Homo sapiens: one gene and its partner. The main gene of each other region encodes a partner of the protein of the gene in region 2 in a complex. Each region holds a gene or a part of one and is shown on either strand. Other genes may lie near its edges.

The links. Proteins that work in one complex are often made in the same cells at the same time.
Region 1: SF3B2 (region 2) and SNRPD1 share a complex: the UniProt entries of both Homo sapiens proteins name them as parts of the minor spliceosome.

The regions. Positions count from the first base shown.
Region 1 is NC_000018.10:21,629,285-21,634,024, reverse strand, and holds the end of SNRPD1 (small nuclear ribonucleoprotein Sm D1), read right to left. Parts: 3' UTR 505-4,740; downstream 1-504. UniProt on the Homo sapiens protein: Plays a role in pre-mRNA splicing as a core component of the spliceosomal U1, U2, U4 and U5 small nuclear ribonucleoproteins (snRNPs), the building blocks of the spliceosome.
Region 2 is NC_000011.10:66,055,352-66,062,384, forward strand, and holds part of SF3B2 (splicing factor 3B subunit 2), read left to right. Parts: intron 1-183; coding exon 184-234; intron 235-1,486; coding exon 1,487-1,604; intron 1,605-1,914; coding exon 1,915-2,024; intron 2,025-2,702; coding exon 2,703-2,799; intron 2,800-2,962; coding exon 2,963-3,054; intron 3,055-3,478; coding exon 3,479-3,694; intron 3,695-3,849; coding exon 3,850-3,987; intron 3,988-4,163; coding exon 4,164-4,244; intron 4,245-4,430; coding exon 4,431-4,658; intron 4,659-5,230; coding exon 5,231-5,380; intron 5,381-6,334; coding exon 6,335-6,424; intron 6,425-6,539; coding exon 6,540-6,647; intron 6,648-7,033. UniProt on the Homo sapiens protein: Component of the 17S U2 SnRNP complex of the spliceosome, a large ribonucleoprotein complex that removes introns from transcribed pre-mRNAs.

The DNA.
Region 1 (4,740 bases), on a different chromosome or scaffold from region 2:
AAATTAGCCAGGCGTGGTGGTGGGTGCCTGTAGTCCCAGCTACTCGGGAGGCTGAGGCAGGAGAATGGCATGAACCCGGGAGGTGGAGCTTGCAGTGGACTGAGATTGCACCACTACACTCCAGCCTGGGTGACAGAGCAAGACTACGTCTCAAAAAAAAAAAATTTATCTTCCTTTTCAAAAGTACTCCTATTGGCTGGGCGCAGTGGCTCACACCTGTAATCTCAGCACTTTGGAAGCCTGAGGCAGGCAGATCGCTTGAGGTCTGGCATTAGAGACCAGCCTGGCCAAAATGGTGAAACCCTGTCTCTACTAAAAATACAAAGATTAGCTGGGTGTGGTGGTGCATGCCTGTAATCCCAGCTACTCGGGAGGCTGAGGCACGAGAATTGCTTGAACCCGGGACACAGAGGTTGCAGTGAGCCAAGATCGCACCACTGTACTCCAGCCTTGATGAAGGAGTGAGACTGTCTCAAAAAAAAAGAAAAGAAAAAAAAACGAAAAGAAAGTACTCCTCTTTATTTCACAGATCCACAAGAATTTCACATTAATAAAGGCCAGTATCAGATATACTTTTAATGCCTTTAGAAAATGTCTGCTGTTGGTTTATTATGACAGAGATTCTTCTTGTTATGGAGTTATTTTCTAGGTTAAGTCTTCAGGAACAAGAACTGTATGTTATTAAATGTTATATGTATGATATCTATTATAGGTAATACATGAATTGTTTGCTGACTACATTAATCTATTTCAAAATACTAAGTTATGCTCACATAATTATGATAGATTAAAAGAAACTGATATTTCATTTTCTATTCCTTCACTTTGGGTTTTCTATCTATATTCATAATACATTTCTTTAAAAACTAATGTTCGGCCGGACGCGGTGGCTCACGCCTGTAATCCCAGCACTTTGGGAGGCCGAGGCGGGCGAATCACGAGGTCAGGAGATTCAGACCATCCTGGCTAACACAGTGAAACCCCGTCTCTACTAAAAGTACAAAACATTAGCCGGGCATAGTGGTGGGCACCTGTAGTCTCAGCTACTCAGGAGGCTGAGGCAGGAGAATGGCGTGAACCCGGGAGGCAGAGTTTGCAGTGAGCCGAGATTGCACCACTGCACTCCAGCCTGGGTGACAGAGCTAGACTCTGTCTCAAAAAAAAAAAAAGAAAAGAAAAGAAAAGAAAAGAAAAGAAAAAAAACTAAAGTTCATATGTAACATCTCATTAAATATCAGATGTGTACAAAATGCTGCAGTCCTAAGATCCCATCTGCCTTTTAGGGGGTGGTGAAGAGGGGTCAAGAGAAGCATGTTAAACTCTAGTCTGTTTTCTATTCATACTATAATGCTTCCTTTATAGCAAATGATGGTAATCAGTTCAAATAGCTTTTTCTTCACCCAATTTTAGCCCTTTCACATGGAAATGAAATAATGACCTCTAGTGGAATAAACTCAATCTAGTACCCACTGTGATTTATTATTACATTTAAACTGTTACTAGACTGGCTTCACACTGCAAACATCCTAGACACAAAAACTCTCAAAACAAATTTTTTTTTTTTTTTTGAAACAGTCTCGCTCTGTCACTCAGGCTGAAGTGCAGTGGTGTGATCTCAGCTCACTGCAACCTCTGCCTCCAGGGTTCAAGTGATTCTCCTGCCTAAGCCTCCTGAGTAACTGAGATTACAGGCACCCGCCACCACACCAAGCTAATTTTTGTATTTTCAGTAGACAGGGTTTCACCATGTTACCCAGGCTGGTCTCGAACTCCTGACCTCAAGTGATTCGCCCATCTCGGCCTCCCAAAGTGCTGAGGTCACAGGCATGAGCCACCATGCCAGGACAAAACGTAATTTTAGATCTCTTATGCTAAGTGGCCATTTTCATTTAAATTTTAAATTTAAGAGCCAGGTCTCACTAGGTTACCCAGGCTGCTTGCAATCATAGCACGCTACAGCTTCAAATTCCCAGGCTATAGCGATCCTCTTGCCTTAGCCTCCCCAGTAGCAGGGACTACAAGTGTGCACCACGGCACTAAGCTCCAATTTTTATTTGTTATCTGCTTCTGTCTATAAGCTCCACGAGGACAGGAGCCAACTGTTTATTTCCTACTCTTGCAGGGTTTTGTTTGACCCCTTCAACAAATCTCTCCACTTGCTGCATTACAGGGGTCTCTTGCCTTTTGCCTTCTACTTGGATACAAGCAATAGGAGCACCAACAGGTCAGAAGATGGAAAAGAATGAAATCCAGTTATTTATTCCCCCAGCTTATTAATTAATGAAAGGTATAGGCCGGGGACGCACGGTGGCTCACGCCTGTAATCCCAGCACATTGGGAGGCCTCGTGCAGATCATGAGGTCAGGAGAACGAGACCATCCTAACACAGTGAAACCCCGTCTCTACTAAAAAGACAAAAAATTAGCTGGGTGTGGTGGCAGGCACCTGTAGTCCCAGCTACTCGGGAGGCTGAGGCAGGAGAATGGCCTGAACCCGGGAGGCAGAGCTTGCAGTGAGCCAAGATCGCGCCACTGTACTCCAGCCTGGGCAACAGAGCAAGACTGTCTCCAGAAAAAAAAAAAAAAAAAAAAAAAAAACGTGTGGAGAAAAATTACATATTGGTTGTATCTTGTCAAGCCAACTCACCTTTAATATATTTACTATTAAAGAATTGTCTTAAGTCTGGCCAACATGGTGAAACCCCGTCTCTACTAAAAATACAAAAAAATTAGCTGGGTGTGGTGGCGCACGCTTATAATCCCAGCTACTCTGGAGGCTGAGGCACAATAATCTCTTGAACCCGGGACGCAGAGGTTGCAGTGAGCCAAGATCGCACCACTGCACTCCAGCCTGGGTGACACAGCAAGACTCTGTCTCAAAAGAAAGAAAGAAAAAATTGTCTTAATCATCATGAATTTCATACATCCCTTTTTGGATCATAGAACCTGTAATACAACTGGGTGACCACTGCCAATAATTTGTGGGGGAAAAAACGCTAATTACTATATAACTTCAATGACTTACAAAAAAAAATTATCAACTGTGGAAAAATCAAAAAGCATTTGAATTTACTTGATGAGGTAAGATACTTAAAAAAATATATATCTAGTATTTATTTATACCAATATATACATTTATATATCTAATATATATGACAGGTACATTCTACATGTATACTAATATATCTATTAGTATATATTTATATATTAGTATAAATACATATATATATAAATACATATATATATCTCTCTCTCGATTTTTTTTTGAGACGTAGTCTCACTCCATCGCCCAGGCTGGAGTGCAGTGGCACAATCTCGGCTCACTGCAACCTCCGCCTCCTGGGTTCAAGCAATTCTCCTGCCTCGGCCTCATGAGTAGCTGGGATTACAGGCGCCTGTCACTGCACCTGGCTAACTTTTGTATTTTTAGTAGAAATGGGGTTTCACCCTCTTGGCCAAGCTGGTCTTCAACTCCTGACCTCGTGATCCACCTGCCTCGGCCTCCCAAAGTGCTGGGATTACAGGCGTGAGCCACCACACCCAGGCTAAACTTTTTTAAGGTAACGATCTTTGCAGAAAATTTCTTTACTTAAAAAAAAAAAAACTCACATACATGATGAAAATACAGATTTAAGCCACCCACATCCTCAGTTGTTTTCCTTAGCATATAAATACTTCGTAGTAAGCTTTACAAAGAACTGATGCACTGAGAGACATTTTTTCTGAGCTTAGCAAATCAAAAACAATTTTTAAAAGTCCTTATTAACAATTAGAACAGTTTTGCTGTCAAATAAAGTAGGTCTTTTCTCTTTTATTCTCAAAGAACCCCTTAATAAAGGAGGCACTGACAGGTACATTACACATTAATAGGAGATTTTAACACTGCTCATAACTGATAATCTAGTGACCATTAACTCCAAGTTATAACTTGGAAAACATAAAACTATATCCTATTAAGAACTGATTAAAAAGCAAAAGAAACAAAAGTAAGACATTAGCAGCTAGACAACAAAGCAATGACCCTTAATTTAGAAGACAACTTTTTACCAGGTACCTAAGACTCCGTGGAGTAAAACTCAGGAAAGGAGAATCAATTCTAGACCCCATCCCATAAGGACTTTAGTTTCCGAAATACCAAAACAAACTTCTTACTTCCCCTGTGGGTAGGTGCCACAGAATGAAGAGTAAAGCAATAAAATGCATATTCAGTGCATGTGAAGTAGAAGGGTATATATCCTATATATATTGTTAAGTTTAGCCTAAAGTCTCTTTACATATCTCAAGTTCAGCTTAAAGGTTTCTCAGTACATAGAACTGTAGCCTAACTGGACGTGTAAACAGACGGTACCCTACTCTTGTGGCAATCACTAAGTTTCAGCCAACCAAAGACAGCGAACTGTTCAAACCATATTCAAATAAGGCAAACGCTGAACTGTAACTAATCCGGCTGTTGCTGTATCTCACTTCCATTTTCCATACATCACTTTCCTTCTGTCCATAAATCTTCAACTATGCAGCTGGGCTGAAGCCTCTGAGCCTATTATGGTTCAGGGGCTACCTGATTTGTGAATTGTCCTTTGCTCAATTAAACTCTGCCAAATTTAATTTGTCTAAGGCTTTTATTTTAACCTTATTCATCATAAAAAGAAAAAGAAAAATTTTAGTTCAAAAACTTAAAACCTGATCAACTAAAAATGAAACTGCCCAGTAGAAATGCTTAGCTCTCACTGTGGTAATTTCG
Region 2 (7,033 bases):
GGTCCCTGAAGGGGCAGTGGAGCCTTAGAGAAAGCTGGGTCCTAGAACTAAGGCTTCTGGGAAGGTCGGGACTAAAGATTGGAACATGGGCCCTTGACTGGAAGAGGATCTCAAGAAGCAAGAGTTGTGGCAGATTGGCGTGTTGGGTATTGGTGCTGGTATGAACTTGTTTTCTTTTTTAAGCAGGGAGATCATTCGCTGAAGGAACATGAGCTCTTGGAGCAGCAGAAGCGGGTAATACCCCTCCCCCTAACCTTTGACCTCGTGGTCCAGTCAGTTGGCTGTCATTTATAGTGCTTAGAGTGCACCATTCAAGTTTTCCCTGGAGGCTACTTTGTTCTCAACTAAGTTCTAGTATCTTCCAAAGCTTTCAATTTTTCTTGAAGTTCAGGAATTGACAAACTATGACCTGTGGCCTGCATGTGTATGGCCTATGAGCTAAAAATAACTTTAAAATTTTTTAAGGGTTATAAGAAAACCCAAACCAAAAATATGTACCAGAGTCTGTACAGCAACCCATAAAGCCTAAAATATTTACCTTCTGACCTATTATAAAAAGAGCCTGCTGACCTCTGCTCGCCTTACATGACATCATTCTAGATAGGACTCTGGGTAATTGAGTTATTTGTATTGGATTTAGACAGAATAGGACTGTAAGTCTGGGAATGTTATATAAGATGTTTGGCCCCAGAGGTGCATTGCATCAGTCATTACCCAGTGGGTTACTCAGGAGTATTAAAAAGTAAGTGTTAAAAAGCAACAAGTATGAGCTGGGTGCCGTGGCTCACACCTGTAATCCTAGCACTTTGGGAGGCTGAGGTGGGTGGATCGCTTGAGCTCAGGAGTTCGAGACCAGCCTGGCCAACATAATGAAACCCTGTCTCTCAGAAATACAAAAATTAGCCAGGTGTGGCGGCGCATGCCTGTAGTCCCAGCTACTTGGGAGGCTGAGGTGGGAGGATGGCTTGAGCTGGGGAGGCCGAGGTTGCAGTGAGCTGAGATCATGCCACTGTACTCCAGCCTAGGCAACAGAGCCAGACTCTGTCTCAAAAAAAAAAAAAAAAAAAAAAGCCACAAGTCTGGACCTGTGGGTAAAGTACTGTCTTTGCCCAGATTGTGCTGGATCTTGAGGGGTGGATATAAGAAAAGAGCTCAAAAGTTTCTTCTGTATAATTTAATCTTTTGGGGAAGAAAACTCTCTGAAAAGTAGAAGGCACTGTTTGGCTCAATATGAAATTCTCTGCTAGGAACCAGAAGTTTCCTGGGGTTTTCCTTGGTGTTATTTCTAGGGATTTTCCGTTGTGATGAGAGGGCTCCTCCGTTTGGATTAGTAGCCTGGAAGTGTGGGGGTGGAGGGGATGTCAGCACCCAAGTGGTTCGTGATTGTTCTCCTTGGGCCCATTACCCGGCTGAAAGAATGCATTTGCCAGGGGCTGCCTGCCAAATGCGTTTTCAGGCAGTATCTACTCCCACTTCCCTCCCGTAGGCAGCTGTGTTACTGGAGCAGGAACGACAGCAGGAGATTGCCAAGATGGGCACCCCAGTCCCTCGGCCCCCACAAGACATGGGCCAGATTGGTGTGCGCACTCCTCTGGGTCCTCGAGGTGAGACCCTGGAACCGAGGGGAAGGGCAAGGAAGGTGATTTAGACATTTTTAAAAAGACTTTTAAGGTATCTATCACATTTAAAAAGGGCATATATAGTAAATATATAGTTTAATGGTTTTTTACACACTGAACACACCTGTACAACCAGCACCTGGACCATGATCCAAAACATTACCAGCATTCCAAAAGCCACGCCACGTGCCCTCCTCCCCTGCAGGTTTACCATCACCCTTTCAGCAAGAGAGGTAATTTTTTACGTGAGTGTTTTGCCTCTTCTGACATTGGATTTCTTTTTCCCGTCTCTTAGTAGCTGCTCCAGTGGGCCCAGTGGGCCCCACTCCTACAGTTTTGCCCATGGGAGCCCCTGTTCCCCGGCCTCGTGGTCCCCCACCGCCCCCTGGAGATGAGAACAGAGAGGTGAGACTGATGATTTATTCCTAGGGATAAGAGAGTGGTAGTTTAGGATGGGACTATTTTTGGATTTTTAGAGAAAGGTTCTGTGAGAAGATGGGGGGACTTAAATTCCTGGGGGTAGTGGGGAGCCCTTCTTATTTAAACTAAGGGTATGGCAGAGGGACTGGGGAGACATTACTGAGGCAGAGTCTTGGGGTCCCTCTGAGGAACACTAAACCCCACTGAGCCCAGTTGGTGTTGCCCACTCTCTGCTGCTTACATCACCTGGGCAGCAGCCTTTCTAGTCCAAGAGGTGGAAGTTGGTGGAAAAAGGGCACTGTGGGCTGGGTGCGGTGGCTCACACCTGTAATCCCAGCACTTTGGGAGGCCGAGGCGGGCGGATCACCTGAGGTCAGGAGTTCTAGACCAGCCTCAACATGGAGAAACCCCATCTCTACTAAAAATACAAAATTGGCCAGGTGTGGTGGTGCATGCCTGTAATCCCAGCTACTCGGGAGGCTGAGGCAGGAGAATTGCTTGAACCTGGGAGGCGGAGGTTGTGGTGGGCCGAGATCGCGCCATTGCACTCCAGCCTGGGCAACAAGAGCAAAACTCCGTCTCAAAAAAAAAAAAAAGAAAGAAAGAAAAAAAAAAGAAAAAGGGCACTGTGATTTGCCTTCTCTGACTGGGTGTCTCTGGCAGATGGATGACCCCTCTGTGGGCCCCAAGATCCCCCAGGCTTTGGAGAAGATCCTGCAGCTGAAGGAGAGCCGCCAGGAAGAGATGAATTCTCAGCAGGGTGAGTGCCAGGCGTTCTGATGCTGTAGCCACAGAACCTGGAGAGGCTGAGCTGAGTCCTCATCCCTCTGTCCCTTTCCCTGGCTCTTGGTAAAGGCAGGTTACTGTGAACGAGTGCAGGGCAGTGGCACCGTGAAGACTCATCACCACCTTCTTCCTTACAGAGGAAGAGGAAATGGAAACAGATGCTCGCTCGTCCCTGGGCCAGTCAGCGTCAGAGACTGAGGAGGACACAGTGTCCGTATCTAAAAAGGAGGTAGGGATTGGAGCTGAGTGTGGAAGGAAAGCCAGGAGATGGGACTTGGGTACGGAAATAACACAATTTGTAAGTGTTCAGTAAGTAATAGCTTCTATTTTGTGCCAATTTCCGCCCTCAGCATCTTATAGATATTTTTCATTTAATTGCTTTGAGTTCCAAGTACTATACGTGCCTACATTTTACAGCTGAAAAAGCAGAGGTTCTGAGACGCACAGTAATTTACCCAAAGGCATACAGCTTGTGAGTGGCAGAACTTTGGAGTCTGACTCCAAGGCCCCTTCGCAGCTACTTCATGAGATGGCCTCCTTGGGAAAAGCCTGACTGTTGAACTGTGGGGGAGAATGGGGGAGGAGTTTAGGGGTTGGGGTGCTGGCACAGTGCTTGGATTCCCTGACCCAGCTGGTTTTCCTCCTCTTGACAGAAAAACCGGAAGCGTAGGAACCGAAAGAAGAAGAAAAAGCCCCAGCGGGTGCGAGGGGTGTCCTCTGAGAGCTCTGGGGACCGGGAGAAAGACTCAACCCGGTCCCGTGGCTCTGATTCCCCAGCAGCTGATGTTGAGATTGAGTATGTGACTGAAGAACCTGAAATTTACGAGCCCAACTTTATCTTCTTTAAGAGGATCTTTGAGGCTTTTAAGGTACAAGGAGAGCACACTAGGAAGGGGCAGTGCCAAACAGGGAAGGGGCTCAGAGGTGGGTGAGAGGCAGCGGTGAACAGGCATCTTTTAGTGCTGGCCTTAGGAACTGGGAAGGGGCTCAGAGGGCAGGGGTTTCACCTTGTCTGCCTCCTTAGCTCACTGATGATGTGAAGAAGGAGAAAGAGAAGGAGCCAGAGAAACTTGACAAACTGGAGAACTCTGCAGCCCCCAAGAAGAAGGGATTTGAAGAGGAGCACAAGGACAGTGATGATGACAGCAGTGATGACGAGCAGGTCAGGCCCAGCCCTCCTGGTGGGAAGCAGGGACTCTGGGCACAGGTGGCTGAGATGCATCCAGAGAGGGACCATGGTGAACTCTTACAGAGCTTTGGTGGCTTAAGGTTGGGGTGGGTTGGGCAGTTTCATTCACATCTGAGTCCTGCTTAAAAGGGCTGATTGTTCTGTTCTAGGAAAAGAAGCCAGAAGCCCCCAAGCTGTCCAAGAAGAAGTTGCGCCGAATGAACCGCTTCACTGTGGCTGAACTCAAGCAGGTAAGACCTGAGAGGATCCTGCAGGCCCTGGAGCCCAGCTGGGAGACCACCTGGGGAGCCAGGGAGGTGAAAAGGAGTTCTTTGAAGGAGGTGTGGGTGATTTGGGTTTGGGTCCTTTGAGGAAGAAGAGCTTCAGAACTGAGAAGTCGGGGCTCTCGAGAACACGCATTACTATGTGTTTTCCAGCTGGTGGCTCGGCCCGATGTCGTGGAGATGCACGATGTGACAGCGCAGGACCCTAAGCTCTTGGTTCACCTCAAGGCCACTCGGAACTCTGTGCCTGTGCCACGCCACTGGTGTTTTAAGCGCAAATACCTGCAGGGCAAACGGGGCATTGAGAAGCCCCCCTTCGAGCTGCCAGACTTCATCAAACGCACAGGCATCCAGGAGATGCGAGAGGCCCTGCAGGAGAAGGTGAGGGCCTGGCAGGGCTCAGACCTGCCCCCGGGTGTCCCCATCCTTCATAGCAGTGTGCTTCAAAATGGGAATCTGGTTTGAAACCCACCTACCACCTACTTGTTACTTGTCTAATTATCCTTTTGTTTTCCTCCTCTGCTCTTCCTCCCCTCTGCCTTCACTTTGCCAGCTCACCTGGTGACTCCTTTCTCAGATGTACTTTGTGGCTAGAGATTCGTGGTGGTTGTGTAACTTCTTAATTTTAAAGCTTTTAGTTAAATGCTTTGAATTCAGGAGGTAGAAAAGAACATGGGGAAGTCTCTGCTTTCCAGAGAACTGTTGAGATTCATCTCTTGATGAGATGGTTTAAAAACTAGTTATTGATATACACGGCTGAGGCTGATATTGTATAGTCTGTTTTGTTCAGTATGGATTATGTAATTTTGAAAGGTTTTAGCAGGAAGGATTTTGATGACTTTCAGGGTGAGATAATTGAGGCTTCCCATGATCTCATTTGGAGTTGGGAGCTGGATTCTCTACATGAATTTGGTGAGTACTTGTTAAGGCTTGTTTGCTGCCATTCTCCACAGGAAGAACAGAAGACCATGAAGTCAAAAATGCGAGAGAAAGTTCGGCCTAAGATGGGCAAAATTGACATCGACTACCAGAAACTGCATGATGCCTTCTTCAAGTGGCAGACCAAGCCAAAGCTGACCATCCATGGGGACCTGTACTATGAGGTTCGGGAGGGGGCTGGGAGAGGTCAGGCTGGGCCTTGGGGTTGAGACTGTCTAGGGCTTTTTTTTGTTTGTTTGTTTGTTTAAAAAAGATGGAGTCTCACCCTGTTATCCAGGCTGGAGTGCAGTGGTGGGATCTCGGCTCACTGTAACCTCTGCCTTGGGGGCTCAAGCAGTCCTCCCATCTCAGCCTCCTGAGTAGCTGGGACCACAGGCACACCACACCTGGCTAATTTTTTGTATCTTTGGTAGAGACAGGGTTTCGCTATGTTGCCCAGGCTAGTGTGGAACTCCTGAGCTCAAGTGATCCACCCGCCTCAGCCTCCCAAAGTGCTGGGTTTATAGGCATGAACCACCGCACCTGGCCAAGGAGGGCTTTTGAAGCAACTACGATAGTTCCTCAGCCTTAGAATTGCCCATCGACTACCCTCGGATGAGATGGAATTTAAAAATGAGGCTCTATTTGGAGGAGAGATGCAGATCTGGTGGCTTCTTTCCCTGATAGACTCTTCGTATCCTGTCTTAGAAATGATAATAGTTTGTGGTAGGTGGTTTAGGGATGGAGGGGCCAAGGGGCAGATGCTTTTAGGAAACTTTTAATATTGGGAGTGGTAGAGAAATTGCTGGTTTTTTCTGATCCTTGAAATCGTAGTCACCATGATGTCATGGAATTTATGAGGTGGAAGAATTTTGCATATCTTCCTGTCGAGTGCCCTCATTTTACAGATGAGGAGGCAGGTCCTAACGTTGGCCGTGTTCTCATAGTGGGTTATTGACAGCACTGTGAGTCTGGCCTGGTTTTTATTCCTTCCCCGACTTTGGCCAGGGAAAGAAGTGATGAGAATCAGAGTGGGAGCCAGGTAGCCCTCACTGGGATTTTATATCTGATGTGCGTTAGGATTGTGCTCCCACTGAGTGTCTGGGTCTACAATGTAGCATGCTCTGCTTTTCCCTCAGGGGAAGGAGTTCGAGACACGACTGAAGGAGAAGAAGCCAGGAGATCTGTCTGATGAGCTAAGGATTTCCTTGGGGATGCCAGTAGGACCAGTGAGTGTCAGTTAGCTGTCTGGGGAAGCAGCGAAGAGGCTGGTGGGGATTGGAGTGGAAGGCAGAGACAGGGATAGGGTTTGGCAGATGGTATCCTGTTCTCTTTTTCCTGCAGAATGCCCACAAGGTCCCTCCCCCATGGCTGATTGCCATGCAGCGATATGGACCACCCCCATCGTATCCCAACCTGAAAATCCCTGGGCTGAACTCGCCCATCCCTGAGGTGAGCATTGTCCTTTCGTTCATTCTTGGCCATTTCTGCTTTTGAACTGGAAGGTAATTTGTTTGTTTTCCTTCTCTAACTCCACCATGTGTCTCTTTATTTACTTAAAAAATATTTTATTGACATAATATTTGTCATATACCATGTGTATGTGTAGAAAAACAAATAATGGTTTTTGTTTTTTAAAGAAACTGACATGCTCATCATAAAATATTCAGTCAGAATTGACAAGTACAAAGATGAAAGCAAGTCACAATTTTACCACTCAGAAATAGCCAAATTCACTGTTTGGTGAATGTGTTTCCAGATATGTCTCTGAATATTAAGAATGACCAGAGAGAAATAATTTTATCTCAGCCAGATGTGGTGTCTCAACACCTGTAATC